7 linked regions of the Homo sapiens genome follow. The protein of the gene in region 1 purifies or fractionates together with the protein of each later gene. This does not show direct contact. Each region holds a gene or a part of one and is shown in the gene's direction. Other genes may lie near its edges. The genes, in order: MPDZ, MAPK9, TACC3, SAPCD2, YAP1, ZNF664 and WASF1.

Region 1 (3,486 bases):
ATTAATGAACTTTGGTTAGTAAAGCCTATTTTTTTTTCTTTGAACACAAATTGCACATGATCGTCTTTTGAAAATGGGACATTTTAAATAAGTATGCTGTAGAGCACTGGTATTTCTGTTTGCATTTTTTTGTTGTGAAATATAAAATAGTTATAGAGAAGTACATAAAGTACACATGAAAATTAATAAGCATTTATTTTATAAATTTAATTTCATTGAATAAAACAAAAATAACTACTGAAAAAATGTAGGGAGTATCCAGCAGCCCTATCATCTATAATAAGTCAGCGATTTGCAATCAAGGGATTCAATTAAAAAGACTGTATAGTTATAATTATATAATACCTATTCTAGCTTAAGAAGGTTTAGAATAAGAATAAAGATATTGCAGTACTGGTAAAGCTATTAAAATAATTTAAACCCATGTAATTATTGTTAATATGTTAAGTCGTTTTTCAGGGGCTACAAAATTCGACAAGATTTTCTGCAGGGAAAAATTTAGAATCTCAAAATTTTACAGTGTCAAAAGAAACAAAACTTAGTCAAACGTGTTTAAAAATTTGATACAGGGCCTTTGGATTAGTGGTATAGTTCTTTATGGATATTTTATTTTATTATTTTGGAAAAGATCTTTTTTTTAGCCAATTTAAAGTGTTGTACCTACAACAAGCTAGCTATAGGCTTAATTTATAAGATTTTTAAAAAAGCTATCGGTATGTCCAAAAATACAAACAGCATTTGCTAGTGAATAGAAGAGTCATACAGTCCTTTTCCTCAGCCTAGGAACAATTTATTTAAGGCATGCTAGTTAGAACATATTTTAAGAATTTCATCATTATGGATTCCTCATTAACTTTTCCATATTTTTAATTTTATATTTAATTGCATAATTGTCTTCTATAAGCGTGCTTTAAGATGGGGTTCTTTTTCTAACACCAATGTCTGTATTTAATCTTAATCATTTAGGGTCCATAAGGAATATGAAGAATCTCTCTACCCTTGGGAAGTAAGAACTAAGACAGCTTGAATAGCTTTTTCAAAACCACAAAAAGAAATAGCAGTGGGTTTTAAATTTAGAACTTATGCCTTATCCTGCCATAGGGAATGTTCAGGTGGCTTTGTGCTTTTGCAGACCTTTGGATTTTGTCATCCCCCAAGCCCTTGTCCTGTAAAACTGTTTTTGTTCCTACCTAATCCTTTACCTTCTTTCTGTAGGTCTTATTTACAGGATAGAAAATCCTGGATTCTATTGAATCATTCCTACTAGGCAAATTCCCAAATATTCTTTATTAATTTGTGTTCCCACCAACTGCTGTGCTGAACAGCCAAAAACCCATCCAACTGATCTATCGACTGCTAAATTCTCTCTCAAATTGGTATCTCAATGCTAAAACCATTTAGGAGAAAGACCTTCTTTGTCTATGTTCATCATTGCTTAATGGCTTAGAGCACCCATGGAGCACTGGGAGCAGTGTGTGTGTACAAGCAGAGCAATTTACATTCCTGTTGAGATCTTTTTCTGTTGTGAGTTGCAAGGCAGCATTTTTTGAGAAATAAACAAGTCTACTTTATAATTTGCAGGGAGCAGCCTCTGAAGACGGACGTCTGAAAAGGGGCGATCAGATCATTGCTGTCAATGGGCAGAGTCTAGAAGGAGTCACCCATGAAGAAGCTGTTGCCATCCTTAAACGGACAAAAGGCACTGTCACTTTGATGGTTCTCTCTTGAATTGGCTGCCAGAATTGAACCAACCCAACCCCTAGCTCACCTCCTACTGTAAAGAGAATGCACTGGTCCTGACAATTTTTATGCTGTGTTCAGCCGGGTCTTCAAAACTGTAGGGGGGAAATAACACTTAAGTTTCTTTTTCTCATCTAGAAATGCTTTCCTTACTGACAACCTAACATCATTTTTCTTTTCTTCTTGCATTTTGTGAACTTAAAGAGAAGGAATATTTGTGTAGGTGAATCTCGTTTTTATTTGTGGAGATATCTAATGTTTTGTAGTCACATGGGCAAGAATTATTACATGCTAAGCTGGTTAGTATAAAGAAAGATAATTCTAAAGCTAACCAAAGAAAATGGCTTCAGTAAATTAGGATGAAAAATGAAAATATAAAATAAAGAAGAAAATCTCGGGGAGTTTAAAAAAAATGCCTCAATTTGGCAATCTACCTCCTCTCCCCACCCCAAACTAAAAAAAGAAAAAAAGGTTTTCTAATGAAAATCTTTAAAAATACTGTCAGTATTTTAAAATTTTCAACAGTATTATAAAAACATTGCATCTCCCCACCTCTAATATGCATATATATTTTTCCTGCTAAAATTGGTTTCTACAATTGAGTAAATGGCAAATACATGAAGCAATGTCCCTAAATTTTATAAAGAAATTATATTTAATGCACATTTCAATTTTCATTCTTATTTTTGACCTTTTGTAAAATATTTTCATGTTGCTATAAGTAAATGATGATGCCACCCCATGTTGACTATGGTTTTTCTAGAAAGCAACTATGCTGCTAACCATAGAGGAACATAGAAGGGTTCCAGAATCTTTAGTGCTGGTTTTAACAACCGATGCAACATTAAAAATGTGTTAGTGTGCTGTGCAATTGGTTTTCAATTCATATTAATCTTAATGACAGAGAACAATGTGTTACTAATTATTTTGGTTGTATGCCATTAGTAAATTGATAGAAAAATTAAGGGGATTAACATAACTTCATTTCATTGACTTATATTAACATCTTATAATACAATAGTTTAAGACTAAGGGAAACAGATGGAGCTGTTTATTGAGACAACTGGTGAGGAATTATCATGTGTTCATTCCCATTTTAGAGCGTGAAACTCCTACATTAGAATATATAAAGTCACTTTAAATATCTATATTTGTAACAGAAGTAGTGTACAGATATTTTATTACAGCATTTTTGTGTAAATGCAGAATTAAAGTGAATAAATAAGAATTTTCAGTGGTGCACAAATAAGCAGCAAGCATTTTTTTTGTTCTTTTTACTGTGGAAAAGCTTTGTTATATACTGTTCAAGATTTACAACTTAAAATTGGTTTTTATCATGTCTAACTGCACATATGGTGTCCATAGTTACAGCTAAAGGAACTTTGGACAACATCATTATGGAAAGCTTAATATTTTTTACCTCCACAATTTTTTCTAGCACTAAAGATTCATAGACTCCTCATAGATGAGAGGAAGATGACATTGTAGAAAGAGAAGTATCCTGCCTGTATATGTTTTTCTCAAATGCTGTTAATGCAGTAATATTGTAAGTTGCTCTTTTGTGTGGTCAAGAACTATTCAAGTGTATTCAGATGGACAAAATCATAATCAAAATTATTTGTATTAATAAACATGACAAGTCCAACTTGAACACTGAGCAAGGAATGAGGGGAACTCTGTTCTACTAGTTTTGTACCAAATTAGCTAACAAACGTGCATTTCCCTCTCATTCATCTTATCTGTAAA
Region 2 (3,500 bases), on another chromosome or scaffold:
ATGCCGCCTGCAACCCCCCTTGTGGCCCATCAGTTGGGGTGTCTTACAGGCAGGTGCTAGGCAGTGCTACTGAACCTGCAACTTCCTGGGTAAAGTATCCTCATGCCTTACGCCATGTCAGTGGCTTGGCAGTTTGACATTGCAGGTGCACTACTCTTGTGAAAAGAATGGGTGTGGGTTGTTTACAAGTCACAGTTTCTCAAGTGAGTTTGCAGGCCGAAGTCCCCAGGCAAAAGTCAAATTCCTAAGGCCTGAGGAAGGGGCTAGGGTGGAGGATCAGCAGGAAGAAAATCCCTTAGTTATGAGGGAAAAGGTTGCAGAAGTTGTGTTAAGGCTTTGCAAGTCAGGTGGAATATGATGCATGTCTTCATTCTGCAGACACTTCCCAAGTGTCTGCTCGCGCCAGGCGTGCTTCTGAGTGCTGAGAGCTCACACAGAGTCAGCACTGGGGAGGGAAGAGAGGTGGCAACCAGAACATGAGCAGGTGAGTTTTTGTGCCACGTACAGATGGAGACAGCAGCACCAGTGCTGGCGTGTCTTTGTGGCGAAGGTGAGAAGATTGGAGGTGGATGATCATGGAATTGCTCTTCCAAGGAGAGAAAGAGCCATGGGAAGATTCCAGGATCAGACGATTCTAGACCTGTGCTGTCCAGTATGGCAGCCACTAACCACAGGAGGCTGTGGAGCACTCAGGATGTGGCCGTGCTGCAGTTGTAAAATACATACTGGACTTCAAAGGCTCAGTACTAAAAAGAGAATGTAAAATATCTCAGTATTTTTCTTATGTTGATTACATTTTGAAATGATAATATTATGGATATATTGGGTTAAAAAAATATACTGTATGATTAAAATTAATTTCACCTATTTCTGCATGCTGTTGAGCATGGCTAGTAGAAAATGTAAATTATACACATCGTTCGCATTATATGACATTGTCTGTGGGACAGCACTGCCCTGGACTGACAGACAGCATGAGGACCTTAGCAAGAGAGAGTCAGAGTATTGGGGAACTCAAGTCCAGGCGTGGAGAGCAGGAGGGGGCCGTGTGTGCTGGACTGACAGCATGAGGACCTTAGCAAGAGAGAGTCAGAGTATTGGGGAACTCAAGTCCAGGCGTGGAGAGCGGGAGGGGGGCATGTGTGCTGGACGTGTAGATGCATGGATGGAGGGTAGATAGGACAGCCTGAGGGCCTGCGAGACCACAGAAAGGGCAAATGGGGGCCATGAAGGTTTCCACTGGGGGTAAGGGGCACCATCTGACGGCTTTAGGCTGATTTGTTTTAGTTTCAATTTGAGAGTAAGATTTTCCAAAGTTGTTCCCAAATCTCAGAGTTCAGTTCACTCCCTACACTCTCACACTGGCTTCACGACCCTCACGGATGTGAAGTAGTTTATTTAGCATGCTTCATTCATTTTACTAATTTAAGCCATTTCTTTCCTAGGATTTGAAGCCTAGCAACATTGTTGTGAAATCAGACTGCACCCTGAAGATCCTTGACTTTGGCCTGGCCCGGACAGCGTGCACTAACTTCATGATGACCCCTTACGTGGTGACACGGTACTACCGGGCGCCCGAAGTCATCCTGGGTATGGGCTACAAAGAGAACGGTGAGTATAGCCGGGGCTGGAAGAGGCTGGGATGTTTAGAAATTGCTCTAGCGGTGGTCTCGAGTTTTTTCTCTTTCCTTTGAACCATATGATATATACTGTGGGGACTGTTACACCCAGAATATAGCATGATCCAGAGATAAGAAATAATTAATTGTGTTTTTCCATTGGTTAAAATCATTCTCTTTTAAAAATTCACTTTTAAAATTGTTATTTTTGAACTTTTTAATCAGAGTTAAGCTGTCTATAGCCAAGTGTGCAAATCCTGAGTGTGCAGCTCAGCTGAGGTGAGCACACCCACAGCAGCAGCAGCTCTGGCCTCCCCATGGCCCCTCCTCGCAGCCCACGAGGCTGGCCAATCTCCTGATCTCCAGTACCATGGATCAGCTTTATTTGTTGGTCTGCATATTGTTTTTTTGAATTTGATGTAAATAGAATAACACATGTTTTCATGTAAAATTGGTGTCTTTTTACATCAAAACTTAGCTTATTCTAGCAATATCAGAGCTCTTTGAAACTTGGCTTTTAGCAAATTTGTTGAAAATAACGAAATCACGCTTACTTATTTTTAAAAAGACTGAAAGTTTGCCCGGGTCATCTGAAATGAGTTTTGCTACAGGTTCATCTTGCTGCGTTGTAGCTTGTGTTCCCACCCTGAGGGGCACAGCTTCATGTGCTTCCTGTGGAGGGGAGAGAAAACTTGATCCCCTGTTCACTTCTCCCCTCGGCCCGCCAGCAGGGCACTTAGAGGCCTCTGCTGTCTGTCTGAGGCCCCACAGATGAGGGTGGGCACCGTGGAAGTCTGGGCCCCTCTAGCAGGGCCTCACCTGCAGTCCTGCAAGCCAGCCAGCCTGTGCCGCCAGTGAGTGCTGCTGCCTTTCTGACGGGGCAGTCTAGAAAATGATCGCTCAGGAGGTGTGGTATCAACAACGCACAGAGGCTCCCGCCGGCAAGCTAGTGACGTGTACCGGGTTTGTCCTGGGAGGGGGTTTGAAGAAAAAAGATGGGGGACTCTAGCTGGTTTTTAATCCCCTGGTGTTTGGTAGTGGACATCTGGTCTGTCGGGTGCATCATGGCAGAAATGGTCCTCCATAAAGTCCTGTTCCCGGGAAGAGACTGTATCCTTCACAGGGGACCCGGTACTTGGCCATGGAGGCTGGGGTGGGCGTGTGGCCCTGAAAAGCTTTGTGTTCACAGGCACTTCTTGTTTCTGGTTTTTTGTTTGTTTGTTTGTTTGTTTTAAGCTATAAAGTATTGGACTCTTTGGCACTAAAACCCCAGATTGCTACAAACCGAAGGCTAAAATAGAGGTCAGCAATCATTCATATTGTGTAAAATGTCACCCTTAGCTAGCAATTTATTTTTCCATATTTGTGTGTTTAGTGCACTGTTAGAATTCCTTTTCCTCACTTTTGTTTTGTTCATGGCACTTCATAATTTTATCATTTCATTTTATTTTCAGTTGATATCTGGTCAGTGGGTTGCATCATGGGAGAGCTGGTGAAAGGTTGTGTGATATTCCAAGGCACTGACCGTATCCTTCCCCGCGACCTTGGCCCCGCCATGCTTTCTTAATGCCTCAGGCAGCATGACCACCTGCTTACACGAGCGCTCACGAGGACAAAGTCGTAAAATCCACTCCAGACTGTGTTCTAAGGGGGGCTTTACTGTATTTGTTAATTAGTGTCACAAGCCAAGTGGTTCAATTTCATTCTTTATTTTTAACTTGACTACCTGTGATGACTTTGAGACTTAGAGTTCAGTTAAACCGATTATATTAGCTCTTAATTTTGCCAAAAATAGCTGGACACATAGAAGAAATTATTTACTCTTTGATAAGTATATTCTGATATTTAAATGAAAATACTGTATTATTTAGTTTATTCCGT
Region 3 (3,500 bases), on another chromosome or scaffold:
CATGTAACTTATGTTAGAAATGCACAATGCTTGTTCTCTGGTGCCACAAAGAAATAGTGCTCGAACATTAATTTTCTCAGCAAGGCAGTTTTTACTTTCTGCAGAAAGGGTGCCCCTCGCAGATGGAGCAATGGCAAGAGCACACCTGAACAAGGGAGGGGAAGGGGTTCTTATTCCTGACACAGGTAGCCCTACTGCTGTGTTGTTCCCCTGTTGGCTAAGGTTGGACCACACAGTCTAAGCCAATTCCAATTGGCTATTTTAAAGAGGGCAGGGTAAGAGTCAGAGTGGTGGGGTGAGTAGTTTGACGGGAAGGACGGTTAGGAACAGGTAACTCAAGGTGACTTAGGTCAGAGCAGGTGACCGGGATGAGTCAGGATGGAGCAGGTGACCAGGGAACAGATGTGAACTACTGATTAGGACTGGCGGGAAAATTGTTTACTGAAACTAGAAGCAAGGGGCGAAGAGAACCAGGAATTTTAAATGGAGAATCAAAGAAGAGATCTGGCCGGGTGCAGTGGGTCACGCCTGTAATCCCAGTACTTTGGGAGGCCGAGGTGGGCGGATCACGAGGTCAAGAGATGGAGACCATCCTGGCTAACACGGTGAAACCCTGTCTCTACTAAAAAATACAAAAATTAGCCGGGCGTGGTGGTGGGCACCTGTAGTCCCACCTACTCGGGAGGCCGAAGCAAGACAATGGCTTGAACCCGGGAGGCGGAGCTTGCAGCAAGCAGAGATCACGTGACTGCACTCCAGCCTGGGCGACAGAGTGAGACTCTTGTCTCAAAAAAAAAAAAAGAGATCTGAACATACTGACTTACTGATTCTTTGAAGACAAACTTGGAGTTCACTATATTTAACACTTAGGACCCCTAGTATCTGCCACTGGGCTGCGGGGGCAGCTGCAGGGACACACACCTGTTGGGTGCCTGCTGGTTCCACCCAGGAGCACAGCCAGCAGCCTCATGCCTCCTGCCCCCTGGCAGTCGGGTGCACGTGGAGCAGGTGGCCTTGGCCTCGACAGGGTTCCCAGGGTCCCACTGGAAGCCCCACATGGAACTGTGCCTCTGGGACATTGCTCCAGGGACCTCGGGTGCGGGCTGGCCCCATCCTGTGGGGAGGTCCTGGGAGGGTCAGTCTGGCCCGCCTGCCTGCTGACTTGGGTGTGGCCTGAGCAGGTAAAGGCGACACAGGAGGAGAACCGGGAGCTGAGGAGCAGGTGTGAGGAGCTCCACGGGAAGAACCTGGAACTGGGGTAAGGAGGCCCCGTCTCCTGTCCTCCCCGTCCCCATCCCCCTCGCCATCCTTGTCCCCATCCCCCTCGCCATCCTTGTCCCCATCCCCCTCGCCATCCCTGTCCCCGTCCCCATCCCCACCTGGCCTGGGACCGCTGGGCACCCGAGGCAATGGCTGTGTGTCTGTTCTCCTCCCACAGGAAGATCATGGACAGGTTCGAAGAGGTTGTGTACCAGGCCATGGGTGAGTGCCCGGGCCACCGAGGCCACGTGCCTCCACGAGGGGCTGCCTATGCCCCACCCTGGCCCTGCCCTGCACCCTGCCTAGGACCCCACCCTCCTGAGGCCCCTTTTCCTAACACACGAGTCCCTTCAACATGGGCCCGGCCGTGGAAGCACTGAGGCGAGTTGCGGGGAAGCTGGTGGTAGTGAGGCTGGTGGCTCCCACGGAGCCAGGGCTTGGCAGGCCCCACAGTTGTGCAGATGCTGAGCTAGCAGTGGGGCTGTGGTGGGAGCAGAGTCTGTCCCGCCGTGGCCTACCCCACTCCACCCTGCCCTCGCCGTGCGGCTATGTCTAGCAGCAGCCTCTGTAGGTGTCTGGCAGGACGGGAACACCAGGCCTCATCTGGCCTCCCAAAAGCTTGGGCTCCTGGAGGTGCTACTGTGGGGATCTGTCTTAGGCTGAGTGTCAGCCGGCGGCAGGTGACCGCCTGGCCCTTGCAGTCCCTCCAGGACCACCACGAAGCACGACGCACATCCTGGAGCTCGCCATACCGGCTCCCAGGCCTCACCCTAGGCTCTAGGGTGTTGGGCGCCGCCTCTTCAGGGACCTCTGGCCCAGGCTCCAGTTCCCTGCGGATCTGATGTGGAGGAAACAGCTGTTTCCTGGGCTTTGCATCCGGCCTAGAAGATCCTGGGTGGAGGGACCCATCACCCTCCGAGGCTCACACCCACTGCCCACCTCTCCTCCTGGCGCTCGAGTCCCTTGCCTCATTCCTTGGGCTGTCTCTGGCACCCATCGTTTCGGTTGCCTCCTCATCCTGAACGTTTGCTTTTCTTTTCTCAAGAGGAAGTTCAGAAGCAGAAGGAACTTTCCAAAGCTGAAATCCAGAAAGTTCTAAAAGAAAAAGACCAACTTACCACAGATCTGAACTCCATGGAGAAGTCCTTCTCCGACCTCTTCAAGCGTTTTGAGAAACAGAAAGAGGTGATCGAGGGCTACCGCAAGGTATGTCTCCGCCACCCTGGTGTCCTCACCTCGGAGGCTGATGGACTCATGGTCCAAGCCAGCGGGGCTACAAGCTGCTGTCTTTGCACCTTGGTCCTTGGCCAAGCCTCCCCTTGCCACGGGGGCATGGGATGACCTGTGAACGAGACAGGGTGCAGGAGTCACAGCATAGCTGGTTTGCGAGGCAGCTGAGGGCGGCAGGAGGCAGAGTGAGCAGGGAGGCCATCTGAGCCGTCCGCTGTTGTGTGACAGACGACTCGGCTATGATCAGGCATCTGTGAGATTTGAGACAGCGCTGGTGCACCGGGGCCTGGGGCACCTCGGAAAGGTGTCTGGGCTGTCCGAGCGCTTGGGTCCCAAGGGTTGGGGACCCAGGGCATGCAGTATCCAAGGCGGGAGGCCCACTGAAAGGTGGTCACGGCTGTGCAAGGCCACCCTGGTGTCCTCCTGGCCACGGGACTCTGAGCGCCCCCCACCTTCTGTGCTGGGCAAGGCCCACATGCTTGCTGGAAGGAGGGATGTCTGGGCCATCCATCTGCCCAGAGCAGGCCTGGAAGGTGCCTGCGAGGCCGCCAGAGGGTTCTGCCCACAGCAGCAATGTTGGAGCGGAGGTGCTCAACGCCTCCTGTGGAGGAGCTGGACCTGCAGGTGCAGCTGGAAGAGGGGCTGTCACTGTTGGTGCAAGGGGGTTGGGGACACCAGATGGGTCCCCTGGGAGTCAGACTAAACTGGAAAAGCGGCCCTTGCAGGGCCTGCTGAGCCACACCTCATCTGAGTCCTGAAGTCAGGTGGGTGTCAGTGGCTGGGGCCCAGCTGCCTAACAGAAGCAAGCCTGAATACTCTAGGGAAGAAGGTATCTTATGCTTTAAATTGCTGCTGCAGTTTTAAATTAGTGTCTGGCACAGAATAACCAAGTGTGAAAGGAACAGGAAACATGAGTGAAAATCAGACCCGTTATTAGAGTGAGGCATGGTGATGTACACCTGTGGTCCCAGCTACTAGGGAGGCTGAGGTGGGAGGATCATTTGAGCCCG
Region 4 (2,965 bases), about 120 Mb from region 1:
AACTGATCCCCCCCCGCCCCAGCTTCCCAAAGTGCTGGGATTACAGGTGTGAGCCACCGTGCCCGGCAAGGGATCTTTTTTTTTTTTGAGACAAAGTTTTGCTGTGTTGCCCAGCCTGGAGTGCAGTGGCGCAATCTGGGCTCAGTGGAACCTCTGCCTCCCAGGCTCAAGCAATCCTCCTGCCTCAGGCTCCTGAGTAGCCGGGACCACAGGTGCATGCCACTGCACCAGGCTAATTTTTGTGTTTCTAATAGAAATGGGGTATTGCCGGCCGGGCACAGTGGCTCACGCCTGTAATTCCAGCACTTTGGGAGGCTGAGGTGGGTGGATCACCTGAGGTCAGGAGTTCAGGACCAGCCTGGTCAACATGGTGAAACCTCATCTCTACTAAAAAATACAAAAAGTAGCTGGGCATGGTAGTGGGTGTCTGTAATCCCAGCTACTCGGGAGGCTGAGACCGGAGAATCACTTGAACCTGGGAGGCGGAGGTTGCAGTGAGCCAAGATCATACCATTGCACTCCAGCCTGGGCAACAGGAACAAAACAACGTCTCAAGAAAAAAAGGAAGAAATGGGGTTTTGCCATGTTGCCCAGGCTGGTCTCAAACTCCTGAGCTCAAGCGATCCACCCGCCTTGGTCCCCAAAAGTGCTGGGATTACAGGCGTGAGCCACTGTGCCCGGCCATGCGGGACTAACTTTCTATCAGAGTCACCATCCTGGGAAAAGTTAGGTTTCCGTCATTCACACCCACATCTCCTGCTGCCTTGCAGGACCCCGTGCAGATGGGAGAGGCGTAGTCAGGACCAGAACCCCCCCGCCCACTCCTCCCTTACCCAGCTGCCTTGGAGACCCAGGGTGTGCCTGCCATGTTCTGGGCACTGGGTGTGCAGAAGAGAGCTGGATAAGGCCTCTGGCCCCAGAGAGCTCACGGACCGATGAGGGGGCAGGGTGTGTGTTTGAGCAAACATGCGGGCTTGGCGGCACAGCCCTCCCCAAGCCAGTGTGAGGAGCTGGAAAGGGGAGAGGGACCAAACTCCAGCCTGGCACAGAGGCTACACGTGGGCCATGCCAGGCTGGTGCCCGAGACCTCGAGGGTGGGCTGAGATGTGGAGGCCGCTGCACCTCAGCAGAGCCTGGCCAGGCAGGTCTGGAGGTGAGCCAGGCCCATGCCTCTCCATAACAGGTGCAGTGGCGTGCAGGGCCCTGGAGGCGGACTCAGGGGATGCCCGGCGGGCTCCCCGTGCCCGAGGGGAACGTCGGAGGCACACCATCGCCAGCGGCGTGGACTGCGGCCTGGTGAGCAGGGACTGGGGCTCTGTGGGGCTCTCCATCTTGCCTGGAGGCTGGAGGCCGGGATGGGAGCAGGGGGGCCTTGAGCCTGGGGGAGTCCATGGCGGAAGTACAGTCAGCTCTGGACATCTCTCTCCCTACCTGGGCTTGACTCCCCTGGAGGGATGGCCCAGGGTCAGGCAGAGGGAGGTCAAGAGGTCGTTTAGGGCAGCTATGGTGGCTGCCCAGCCCGCCTCACGAGGTTGCTGCTGCAAGCCAGTCTGGCTTCCCAGCTGTGTGCTCACCACAGGCAGACTTCGGGAGGGTGGGCTCAGCTGAAGGGTCCGTCACCCCTCCCCCAGGGAAGCCTGAGTGGAGGGGCTAAGAAAGGCCAAGACCCCTCAGCAGGAGGAACGGGGCTCCTGCTCCAAATGGGCCTATGGGGCTCACACATGCAGGTGTCAGCAGAAGCGTGCGTCCGTGGGTGTTTGCAAACGTGTACACGTGCTGCTGCATTTGTGTCTGTGGCTCTGGTGCCCACCCACAGGTGAGCTCATGCATGTGTGGACGTGTGCGTGCTCACTGGGGCCAGGCATTCCATGTAAATGCACGTATTGCAGCTGAAGCAGATGAAGGAGCTGGAGCAGGAGAAGGAGGTGCTGCTGCAGGGTTTGGAGATGATGGCGCGGGGCCGCGACTGGTACCAGCAGCAGCTGCAACGAGTGCAGGAGCGCCAGCGCCGCCTGGGCCAGAGCAGAGCCAGCGCCGTGAGTGCCACAGCCCTGTCCCCAGATCCCCACACATGGGGACCCCAGCTCACCCCAGGCACCCTTGGGCATTGTGGCTGCCCCTATTCCCGGACACAGTGGCTGTCGATTCCACCCAGGATGCTGAGACATCCCTTTCTCCGCCTGTGGCTGCCCCACTCCTAGGGCCTAAGGTGTCTTGGGCAGACCTCCCACCTCAGCAATGCCCCTGGGACCCTCTAGGCTCTCTGCAGCATCAGGAGGCAGGAGAGCCACCTGTGGGAACCCCTATCAAGGCACCTTGCTGGCCCCGGCTGGACCTCCTCTCTGACCGCTTGTCCTCTGCTTTCTTCCCAGGACTTTGGGGCTGCAGGGAGCCCCCGCCCACTGGGGCGGCTACTGCCCAAGGTACAAGAGGTGGCCCGGTGCCTGGGGGAGCTGCTGGCTGCAGCCTGTGCCAGCCGGGTGAGTGTACCCCAAACCCCCACACCCACGCTGGGGCCCAGGCCAGTTTAGTGCTTCCCCGCCCTCGTCCAGGCCTGCCTAATCCTGCCCTCCCGCAGGCCCTGCCCCCGTCCTCCTCCGGGCCCCCCTGCCCTGCCCTGACGTCCACCTCACCCCCGGTCTGGCAGCAGCAGACCATCCTCATGCTGAAGGAGCAGAACCGACTCCTCACCCAGGTAGGGCAGGCGCGGGAGGGGTGCAGGGGTGGGGGTGAGGCCCCGCAGGCCTTGACCAACTGTGCACCTGCCCAGGAGGTGACCGAGAAGAGTGAGCGCATCACGCAGCTGGAGCAGGAGAAGTCGGCGCTCATTAAGCAGCTGTTTGAGGCCCGCGCCCTGAGCCAGCAGGACGGGGGACCTCTGGATTCCACCTTCATCTAGTCCTTGTGGGCCGCGTGGGCCCCCAGGGCCAGCCTGGCACTCAGCCCTTCGAGGGTGGGCGCCCCA
Region 5 (3,500 bases), on another chromosome or scaffold:
CTTATAAAATTTTGTATTTTAAAGAGTATCTGCTTTATGAACATTATGCAATTTGGAGAAAAGTTATGAAATAAGATTATTTCACCTTCTCCAGTTAGCTACTTCCATGATGTTATGGACCGTATAGTTGTTACAACTTCTTTTTGTGTACTGAACAGACAAATGAGATTAATATCCTAACCATTAGTCAAAGATGATGATAAACTAAGCTTTTGGTGCCAAGTTTCTGTTGTCAAAGTTCATTTTTATCCTAGTTTTGATGTTTTAAAATAGGGCTGTCTTTGTAATCAATATTTATATACTTTCCTCTTGTATCTAAAGAGGAGTGTTGTTGTCATCAGATGTAGAATGAAGATTTAAATTAGTTGCCTTACACTTGTTTCCGCAATGAAACATTTTATTTTAATGCATCTTTTTAGATATTTGTTGGAACTGACTTTTAAGTTACAAAGTCTATAACTTATTGAGATTTATATTTGGCATGAAGAACCTGACTATAAATGGTCCAGACAGGCAAGACGATGTAATTTGAGAAAAAACTTAGAAATGTTAAGAAACAACCCAGTTGTTGGCCTTGTGACCATAGATGATTGAGTTTTTGAAGTTAGTTGGCCTATCATCTAGTTTCCAGGCAGCATGATTACTGAAAGATTATAAGCAGGCAATCATTCGTTGTTTTAAAGCCCTCCTTAGGTCAGTGAGATCTTGTGGAGGAGACTCATACCTTACTTTGGCAAGTGATACGGTGGAAGTATGGTGCTAGTTACATTTATCAGTGGCTTGTTTTCAAGCTCTGGGATGAATGTGAAGTATGTAAACAAGGCTTAGCCATATAATATTTGTTCTACTACATTTACTATTCAAAACTATTTTCTTTACCATCGTATTGAGCTTTCATTTTAAAAGAATTCATTCTCTTTATGACTCTGAGAGTTATTACCTTCTTCAGCTGTCTTACGGTTTTCCTACAGGAAATAGTTCTTCAAGTAGTTGGTCAACAACTTCCTATTTCTTTATAAGCTGCTGAATAACTTCCTGACTCAGTATTCTATAATATCTCTGGTTTCAAGGAGTGTTTTACTTGCAAGTTTATTTTATTGACTCTGATGCCTTATAACTATTACCATGTTCAAAGATATGTGTTCTTATATATAATGTACCATGTAGGACCTTATAATTTGATTTAAGGAATCTGGATCAGTGATTTTAAAAGTTTGTACATTTGCATTGTTTTAATAATGTTCTAATAATTTTTAAAGCACAGTTTTGTTTCATTTCCATTGTTTATCATTTTCTGAATAACTGGCCACAATGTTTTTAGTCTGCGAAGATTCAAGGTTTTTTGTGGCTGTGATTTGATTAAGTTATATTGAGTAGCTTGGTATACAATTTAAAAAGGATATGTTTTTCAGAGATTTTTGACATTGCATGGCATAAAACTACCCATATTCCTATATTAATTTGCCTTGTAGATGTGATTGATCGCTATACATAGGCTGATTCTTTTTTCTTTCTTTCCTTTTTTTTTTTTTTTTGAGACAGAGTCTTGCTCTGTTGACCAGGCTGGAGTGCAGTGGCACGATCTCAACTCACTGCAACCTCTGCCTCCTGGGTTCGCGTGATTCTCCTGCCCCATCTCTACAAAAATACAAAAATTAGCCGGGTGTGTTGGCGCACACCTATTGTCCCAGCTAATCAGGAGACTGAGGCAGGAGAATTGCTTGAACCTGGCAGGTGGAGGCTGCAGTGAGTTGAGATTGCACCACTCCACACCAGCCTGGGCGACAGAGCCAGACTCTATCTCAAAAAAAAAAAAGACTATGAACATATACAGTGTATGTTGTTATCATATACAGTGTACCTGGTATTTATACATTGTATACAGAACATATACAGTGTATCTTCATAATAAAGATTATGCCTCTTTAAAAGGAAGTTTCATGAAGAATAAGGCTATACTGTTTCTTTCTGTATCAAGTATAACCCAGAGTTTCCCTTTAAAACTGAAAAGCTTGTAATTTTGCCATTAAATGTTAAGTTGCACACGTGCACATGTATACACAAACAAAAAACCAGTTCAAATTGCAATCACGAAGTATTTCCCTATTTGAGGGAAGGCCAGTCTCTGCTTGTTTGTCTTGCTATTGAGGCTGAGTGGAGAGAGAAGATGAAAGTACGCCCTTAGCTCTGGGGGGTGGGGGAGAGCTTACTTCTGCTCAGTGGGTGGGCATCCCAGGGAAGAATGGCACACAGTGCCACAGTGATTTAGGGAGAGAACCCTGGAGAAACTGTATTCACCAGTGGCAGAAGAAAAACAGTTGGAAGATAGTAGATGTGACAGAGTAAATAGAACATAGAGATTAACATATTCCCTGGGAAAAATAATGGAATTTTTTTAGTGTGAACTAAGAAAGAAGTTCACTAGAACTTCTTTGCATTATTTAATTAATTTGCAGCATCATTCAAAGAACAGACTGTCACTTGGTGTGTTTAAAAATTATGATTCTTAGTTCTAGAAAGAATTCTAGAACTATCTCTGGAAGTTTAAATGTAGCAGACTCAATTGACTGCAAGGTGGTAGGCTAATTTTCTTTTTAAAGTCACATTTAAAAAAAAATACCCTTTCCTAAAGCTTTATCTTAGCCATTAAAAAAAAACCCAAACATCTAGATAGCATTTAAATAGTTGAAACTTGGAAAAAAAAAAAACCCAGGTTTTTACAACCCTAAAATAAGTCCTCTTTAGTTATGTAGAGAAATATTTTACTTTGTAGTTAGAAAAATAATGTGAATTCACAGCTTAAAATACTCAGGGTATCATGACTCTGCATTGCCTTGTACCTTAAGGCTTTGAGGGGAGGTAAACTCTAAACTGTTTTATTGCCAAAATATATATAGAAATTTAAGCTTAGGACCAATCAAAGTGAAGTCATTTTAAAAATCAGTTGCTAAGATTTAAGATTATTCAAACTTAATGCTACCCTCTGTAATAGCATAATTTAGCCATTAATTGTGGCTTGAAAGTTTTTAATAATAGCTGAGTAGCATTGTATAAAGGGAGGTCTTAAAGAGCTGTGTCGTTCTATAACTGTGGTTACTAGGTGATGCACTTCTTACAAAAAGGGCTTCTGATTCTAGGATTAATCAGAACTACAAGCCATGAAAGGGACATTGCCGTTTCTATGAAGAAGAATTGCTTCATGGTTCTGGTTGCTCAAGTGCTGTAGCACCAAGTTTCCTGGGAACAAGTACTGCCACCGTGGAAGCACTTTTATTTACGTAGGGCTTGACCCCTTCTAAATGCAAACAAAGAAGTTTGGTTTAAATCACAGCAGTCCTCCCCACCTCCCCTTTAATATTCTAGACAAGGAAAATGGTCAGTATTTAATCCTCATTTTGCTCCTAGCATGAGAAGAATCATAATTTTTAAACACACCAACCAAGTGATAGTCTGTTGTTTCTTTGAATGATGTTGCAAATTAATAAAATAGTGCAAATGGC
Region 6 (3,500 bases), on another chromosome or scaffold:
TGCTATGAGGGAGTATAAAAAAGGGGAGACCAAATTTTAGAGTGGAGAGAAGGGGCCTAGGAAAGACTTTTCTGTATAAATAAGATTTAAGCTGAGATTTGAAGAGTGCGTAGGTGTTAGTGTGGAGGAAAGTGGGGGATAATTTTCCAGGCAGAGGAACAGCATGTGGGAAGGCCTCAAAGTGGGGAAAAAGCTTTGCCCATTCCAGGAACTGAAAGAATGAATGTGGATAGACTATGGAGGTGAAGGGGAAGAGTGGCTAGGCCAGGGGCCAGATCAAGTAGGGTCATGTAGGGCAGGTTAAAGTGGTTGTATTTTATCCCGAGTGAAATGGGAAACCATGATATGGGTTGGGATTTACGAAGAGGAGTGACATAATCAGATTTGTATCTTTAAACAGCCACTCTAGTCGTTGCATGCAAGATGTGGGGGCGTGTTGGGGGTGGAGAGTAGAAGTGGGGAGACCAGGTTGGCCATCTCAGAGGGCTGCCTGGAAGAGACGTGAGCTTTCCCTTGGAATTCACATTGACCTCACGTTACCAGCTACACTAAGGTCAAATCAATGTTTGATTAAAAAAAAAAAAGATCCTGGCCATGCACAGTGGCTCACACCTGTAATCCCAGCACTTTGGGAGGCAGGTGGATCATGAGGTCAGGAGACCGAGACCATCCTGGCTAACACGGTGAAACCCTGTCTCTACTAAAAATACAAAAAATTAGCTGGGCGTGGTGGCAGGCACCCGTATTCCCAGCTACTCGGGAGGCTGAGGCAGGAGAATGGCGTGAACCCGGGAGGTGGAGCTTGCAGTGAGCGGAGATCATGCCACTGCACTCCAGCCTGGGCAACAGAGGGAGACTGTCTCACAAAACAAACAAAACCCCCACAAATCCTTGTTTCTAATTTTTAAGAAGTGGGGATAAATAAAAGCAATAAAAAGGTACTTGGTATGCAAAAAGTACACATAAATGTTAAACTAGTTGTCTATACTTAAAAGTATCAGAGAGTCAAATTAAAAATTGGGACATTATTTAACAAGGTTTGTATGTTTTGACAAAGCGGTAATATGTGAGATAGGAGTGAAGTGAGGCTCTAAAATGAAGGGAAATATTTGTAGATGCTATTGACTATGAAAACAATAACAAAAATTATTAGACAAAAAAATTGATGGAGTGACCATGTATTAGTATATGTATAAAATTAATAGCTTTCTGAATACCAGAAATAACCTACTAGAACCTAAAATGGCCAAAAAAAAAAAAAAAAAACCCTAAACAAGAAACTGGCTCTGACCAGGTTGCAGCAAAACAAGTGAACCGTGTAGGCACAACCTTATAGAGTCAAGTGTGCACTCTGTGGAGGAGACCATAAAGTATCCTGAAAGGTCTGAAGGGGTACCTTGAACGGAAAGAGAGGCCATCTTCCGGGCTGTGATGTCTGCATGTTATGGAGATGCTCATTTTGGGGTGAACGTGGTAGAATACTTATGAGTAATGAGGTGAGACAAATATATTTAAACATATTATAGAGCCACATTCATTAAAACAGTATCGTTCTGGCTGTAAAATATCCATACAGGTCAATGGAACTTATTCAGCACCCCAGAAATAAACTTTTTTATATGGAAATGTCATAAATAATAATGAAATCATCACAAATGCCCCCTGAGTCTAAAGAAAATGTAAGTAAATATTAAACATCTGGAAAGAGGAGTTTTACATGCTAAGGTGGATGGAGCACATGCTTTAGACTCAGATGTGTCTAAACTGGAATCTTTTAAGTGAGGAAAATTATCCCCACTTTGCAGGTGTTATGAGAGTAAGAGATAAAGGGCCAGGCACCTACAGGGCACTCAAATCTGTAAGTAGCTGCTGCTATTAGAAACAATAGAGAAAATAATAATTAAAAATTAGTGTATTAGACTACATAAAAATTTATTCTTTAGGAAGAGAAGGGAAAAAAAAAACCCGAATCATAAAGTGGAAAATATTTGTGGCAAATGATAAGCTAAGAGTTAGTATTTTCAATATGCAAAGAACTCATCCAAATTGGTGAAGAAAATAATGAAGATCCACACACAGGTGGTTATAGGATGTGAATAGACAGTTCGCTGGATAGAAATATAACTTGTGAAACATTGGAAAAGCTGTGTAATTCATTAATAATCAAATCACTAATTACCGTATAGAAAAGTTAGATTCTGTTCTGAATAGCAGCAAAACTAGAAAACATTTACAAGTAAGACATAAATGTACCAAAGCTTTATGAAGAGAAGTAAAAACTTTTACCTAAATGATTTAAAAGCTAACCTAAATAAATGGGCAGACTTGTTCCTGGAGGGGAAGGCATCATTGTAGATTGCAGTACCTCCAAATTAAACTATGATTTCAATGTAATTACAATTGAAATCCCAGTGGGAATTCTTCTGGACACTAGATAAATTGCTTCTAAAACTCTTTTATAGGAGTAAATGTCCTAGAATGGCCAAAAAATGACAAACGTTTTTAATGGAAAAGTAGTGTTGGGGGATTTGCTATATGAGAAGTCAAAGCATACTGAAATGCTGCAGTAATATAAATGGTGAACACAAGAATAGACAGATTGACGCCTGGAGCAAAGTAGAATCCAGTAACAGACCCATTTTTATATCAGAATTTAGTATATGATAAAGTTGGTGTTTTGCAACAGTTGGGAAATTATAATTCAGTGTGTTGTATAGGGATAAGTGGCTCTTTATTTAGAAAGAAAGATCCTACTTCACATTCAAAATAACTTAGATGGATTAAGGAACTAACTAAAAAAACCTATAAAAGCATTAGAAGGAAATATAAGAGAATTTGTTATGTAGAAGGATACACTGGAAATGATGTGTTTTAGGTAGGCCATTTAGGTAAGACCAAGACCTAAAATCATAAATGAAAGGATTGATAAATTTGACTATAATCACAGTTGATAATTCTGTGACAAAAAGCGTTACAGAGTGACAGACTGGGAAAACAACCTGTAGCATGTATAAAGAATAAATAGAATTAACAAATTAGGTAATGAATTGAGGATATGAATAGTTCTTAGATAAATGTGTTCAAACAGTGAAGAGAAATTCAACCTCATTGTGATTAAGAGAATGGAAATTTAAAAACTAGATTTTTTTGTTGGGAGGAGGGCATCAGGCAAAAATTAAAAACTATCCAGCGATGTAAAAGAGGCACCTAATACATTGTTGGGACATAAAATTTTTCCAAGTTTTTAGATGGCAATTTTGGCAGAATTTTATCAAAATAAAAGTACACGTTGATTTAGCAGCTACACTTCAAGGAATCTGTGCTATTTTCATAGGAGAACATACGTTAATATAAACAATGTCTATTGCAGCGTCATTTATAATGAAAAATTGAAGATAATCACAATAAATTTTGGTACCCATATACTGTGGAATATCAAGTAGCGTTTTGTTTTTTGTGGGATTTTTTGTTTGTTTTGTTTTGAGACAGGGTCTTGCTCT
Region 7 (3,500 bases), on another chromosome or scaffold:
GGGAGCAGGTCAGATTTGGTCTGTGGGACATTATTTGTAATCTTCTGGTTAGAGCTGACACACTCTCCTAGGAAAATTTAGCTAATAAGAATTTAAAGATTAAAGCCTGTTTCATTTTATTATAGTGTTGTTATCAAGCATATCATGTGCAGTGTATTAAGAAAAATTAAGGATTTTTTGGAATGTGGGTAACAGTCTAAGAAATGGGAACCAAAGATGTGATTATTAATACTAATTTGGTATTAAGGAAAATACTTAAAGAATTTCAGAGAGGATTGGCAGTTGCTTATAATAATCTTTCAGTAAAGCTATTTTGAAGTTTAATCTTGTCAGTTATTATCCAAATGATAAATTTCTAATAGAGAAATATTAGGGAAATTTTCTAATAGAGATATAGAGATCAGCTTTACAATTTTCAGTTAAAAATCCAATTTTCTATCACTGACTCATTTGGTGTTCCATCCTCAGGAAAAGAGAGAGCTGTAAATTTCTTTTTGTGGTTTGTAATTAGCTGTCATTGATTTAACTGAAATAGCATATGATGAGACTTCATAGTTTCAGTATAAATATAGCATTGTATTGGCCACATGTATTGCCACAAAATTGCATTATGATCAATGTTGAGTCATTATAGAGACTCCTGTCAGTATAGAATTGAGCATTTTATTTATTAAAGTAAGCATAAAATATCTGAGTGGATGCCAAAGTTGCATGAGAGAATGAGACTATTTAGACTATTACAAACCAAAGCACCACTCATTAATTTTTTTATTGATGTGCTTTTAGTTCTTTTTTTTTTTCTAAATACTGTTGAAGATGTTAAATTTCTATAGGAGCATGTTATTGGATCCATTTTGATATAATTACTGATAGTCATTTATAGTTTGTGTGGTTAGATTTTCTCTTTAGGCTTTTCTCTTTTAATAACTTGCTAGAATCTCTTTGTCATTTCAGTTCTGCTACAGGTTTGATAGAAAATCGCCCTCAGTCACCAGCTACAGGCAGAACACCTGTGTTTGTGAGCCCCACTCCCCCACCTCCTCCACCACCTCTTCCATCTGCCTTGTCAACTTCCTCATTAAGAGCTTCAATGACTTCAACTCCTCCCCCTCCAGTACCTCCCCCACCTCCACCTCCAGCCACTGCTTTGCAAGCTCCAGCAGTACCACCACCTCCAGCTCCTCTTCAGATTGCCCCTGGAGTTCTTCACCCAGCTCCTCCTCCAATTGCACCTCCTCTAGTACAGCCCTCTCCACCAGTAGCTAGAGCTGCCCCAGTATGTGAGACTGTACCAGTTCATCCACTCCCACAAGGTGAAGTTCAGGGGCTGCCTCCACCCCCACCACCGCCTCCTCTGCCTCCACCTGGCATTCGACCATCATCACCTGTCACAGTTACAGCTCTTGCTCATCCTCCCTCTGGGCTACATCCAACTCCATCTACTGCCCCAGGTCCCCATGTTCCATTAATGCCTCCATCTCCTCCATCACAAGTTATACCTGCTTCTGAGCCAAAGCGCCATCCATCAACCCTACCTGTAATCAGTGATGCCAGGAGTGTGCTACTGGAAGCAATACGAAAAGGTAATTTTCTCAGCTCCATGAAAAGCATTGCTATAGTAGCATTGGAAACTTTCTAAATATTTAAGACAAAAATGTGTTCCTTATCTATAAAATTTTAGGTGATCATGTTTGTGTACAAATGGCCTTTAGAAAGTAAAGCTATATCCAACTTATATTTAAAATTATTTTCCAGAAAATATATCACATTTGACCATTTTATTTTCATGCTTTGTAGGTATCCTTAAAATGTTTATTGAGTGAATGAGAAATTTAATATATCAGACTTAAATGTTATAGAACATTTAATTAAAACCCTTTATATTATGCTTAATGTGTATATTAACTCCTTTAAAAATGGTATTTTCTTCAATGTTAAGGCTGTTCATTTTGGGTATCCATGACACTTGCTCTACCAGATGCCTTTAGAGGAGTGAGTTTCCTCCCTTAGTAACAAAGGAAAGACTTCTCATATTCATTCATTTATTGTCATTATTTCCTAAGCAATGACTATAGGCCAGGCACTGAGCATATAGAATGAATAATAGTGCCTTTCCCTCAAATACAATGGATAATGAAGCCACAGAAAATATATTCAACAATGTTTAATTTATTTGACCATTGAGGTGATAGAAGAAATGTACCACCTCATTAATTTTTTAGGGGGTGGTGAGCAGGGAGGTATAGTAGACCATGATGGATAAATAAACTGTAGATACCTACTGGGATATCTGGTAAGTTTTACCAACTAATAACACAGATAACATAAAGATTTAATGCCTCTCTCAGTATGATTTCTTCACATTCTTTTCTGATCTTTTTATTTTCCTATAAGTATTTCTCATGTGTATTTGATTTTATTCCAGAAATATTAATAATATCTAGTATCTAGTATTTTGATTTAAATGAATGGTTTGGATTCACTGTATCAGGTATTCAGCTACGCAAAGTAGAAGAGCAGCGTGAACAGGAAGCTAAGCATGAACGCATTGAAAACGATGTTGCCACCATCCTGTCTCGCCGTATTGCTGTTGAATATAGTGATTCGGAAGATGATTCAGAATTTGATGAAGTAGATTGGTTGGAGTAAGAAAAATGCATTGATAAATATTACAAAACTGAATGCAAATGTCCTTTGTGGTGCTTGTTCCTTGAAAATGTTTGGTCATTCTAGTGTTTTGCTTTCTTTTCCTTATAATAAATGACCCTTTTCCTCCATAACTTTTGATTTCTAAGGAAAATATTAGCATACATTTCAAACTAAATGTTTTACAGTGGCTTATCTTTTTTTTCCCCCTGAAAAGACTAATTTGGTCAAATAAACCACTAAGTATTAAGCATGGACAGCTGTTGTTAGAGTAGCAGATTCAGTTTTTTGATATATCTTAATTGTGTACTTTGTGAATTTTAATTTAAAGAAAGCAACTGAAATTGAAATCTTGAGGGCAGCTGTGTCTACTAATGAGCCTTATTCCATTTCCTGATGTTTTAAAAGAAGAAACACTGCCTTGATTATACGAATACACTCAGAAAGTACATTTAGCTTGTAGTGTTGAATTCTCTTAAAGGAATGCTTGAATTTTTTCATTATTGTTTTATTGTTTTTATATACTTGCCTTATTTGAATGTTTAGCAGTATCCCCTTCCCACTTATATATTGTGTGATATGATTTTGCTTGCCTATAGGAGTTAAAAACTTTTCCATGTGAAATACTCTGACTTAAACATACATGTAACTTACATAACTGTTAAGAATAACAGTCTGATTTAATAAATGGTTCATTTTAAAAGTTCATCAGTGTTGCTCTTTGAATAAAATGATTTATCATAATTTATCAAATACTGTATGGTAGGCTTTAAATAGTGAATGAAAATTTGAAAAACACTTAGGCTACATAATTTCCTCTTAATTGCACAGCTTCATATTGTCTACTGTGTAAG

Evidence for each region.
Region 2: the proteins of MPDZ (region 1) and MAPK9 purify together in Homo sapiens (affinity purification with mass spectrometry; one large-scale study listed by BioGRID and IntAct). This does not show direct contact.
Region 3: the proteins of MPDZ (region 1) and TACC3 purify together in Homo sapiens (affinity purification with mass spectrometry; one large-scale study listed by BioGRID and IntAct). This does not show direct contact.
Region 4: the proteins of MPDZ (region 1) and SAPCD2 purify together in Homo sapiens (affinity purification with mass spectrometry; one large-scale study listed by BioGRID and IntAct). This does not show direct contact.
Region 5: the proteins of MPDZ (region 1) and YAP1 purify together in Homo sapiens (affinity purification with mass spectrometry; 6 studies listed by BioGRID and IntAct, with this or other methods). This does not show direct contact.
Region 6: the proteins of MPDZ (region 1) and ZNF664 purify together in Homo sapiens (affinity purification with mass spectrometry; one large-scale study listed by BioGRID and IntAct). This does not show direct contact.
Region 7: the proteins of MPDZ (region 1) and WASF1 purify together in Homo sapiens (affinity purification with mass spectrometry; one large-scale study listed by BioGRID and IntAct). This does not show direct contact.

The regions. Positions count from the first base shown.
Region 1 is NC_000009.12:13,105,207-13,108,692, reverse strand, and holds the end of MPDZ (multiple PDZ domain protein), read left to right. Parts: intron 1-1,581; coding exon 1,582-1,728; 3' UTR 1,729-2,986; downstream 2,987-3,486. UniProt on the Homo sapiens protein: Member of the NMDAR signaling complex that may play a role in control of AMPAR potentiation and synaptic plasticity in excitatory synapses. Promotes clustering of HT2RC at the cell surface.
Region 2 is NC_000005.10:180,247,084-180,250,583, reverse strand, and holds part of MAPK9 (mitogen-activated protein kinase 9), read left to right. Parts: intron 1-1,445; coding exon 1,446-1,611; intron 1,612-2,657; coding exon of another isoform or gene 2,658-2,729; intron 2,730-2,855; coding exon of another isoform or gene 2,856-2,884; exon of another isoform or gene 2,885-2,921; intron 2,922-3,073; coding exon 3,074-3,145; coding exon of another isoform or gene 3,146-3,186; exon of another isoform or gene 3,187-3,500. UniProt on the Homo sapiens protein: Serine/threonine-protein kinase involved in various processes such as cell proliferation, differentiation, migration, transformation and programmed cell death.
Region 3 is NC_000004.12:1,738,521-1,742,020, forward strand, and holds part of TACC3 (transforming acidic coiled-coil-containing protein 3), read left to right. Parts: exon of another isoform or gene 1-1,178; coding exon of another isoform or gene 1,179-1,181; coding exon 1,182-1,258; exon of another isoform or gene 1,259-1,438; coding exon 1,439-1,482; exon of another isoform or gene 1,483-1,961; coding exon of another isoform or gene 1,962-2,041; exon of another isoform or gene 2,042-2,305; coding exon 2,306-2,466; intron 2,467-3,500. UniProt on the Homo sapiens protein: Plays a role in the microtubule-dependent coupling of the nucleus and the centrosome. Involved in the processes that regulate centrosome-mediated interkinetic nuclear migration (INM) of neural progenitors.
Region 4 is NC_000009.12:137,064,593-137,067,557, reverse strand, and holds part of SAPCD2 (suppressor APC domain-containing protein 2), read left to right. Parts: intron 1-1,183; coding exon 1,184-1,296; intron 1,297-1,889; coding exon 1,890-2,036; intron 2,037-2,372; coding exon 2,373-2,480; intron 2,481-2,578; coding exon 2,579-2,695; intron 2,696-2,770; coding exon 2,771-2,899; 3' UTR 2,900-2,965. UniProt on the Homo sapiens protein: Plays a role in planar mitotic spindle orientation in retinal progenitor cells (RPCs) and promotes the production of symmetric terminal divisions. Negatively regulates the mitotic apical cortex localization of GPSM2.
Region 5 is NC_000011.10:102,116,947-102,120,446, forward strand, and holds part of YAP1 (transcriptional coactivator YAP1), read left to right. Parts: intron 1-3,500. UniProt on the Homo sapiens protein: Transcriptional regulator with dual roles as a coactivator and corepressor. Critical downstream regulatory target in the Hippo signaling pathway, crucial for organ size control and tumor suppression by restricting proliferation and promoting apoptosis.
Region 6 is NC_000012.12:123,976,215-123,979,714, forward strand, and holds part of ZNF664 (zinc finger protein 664), read left to right. Parts: intron 1-3,500. UniProt on the Homo sapiens protein: May be involved in transcriptional regulation.
Region 7 is NC_000006.12:110,099,671-110,103,170, reverse strand, and holds the end of WASF1 (actin-binding protein WASF1), read left to right. Parts: intron 1-954; coding exon 955-1,583; intron 1,584-2,491; coding exon 2,492-2,649; 3' UTR 2,650-3,352; downstream 3,353-3,500.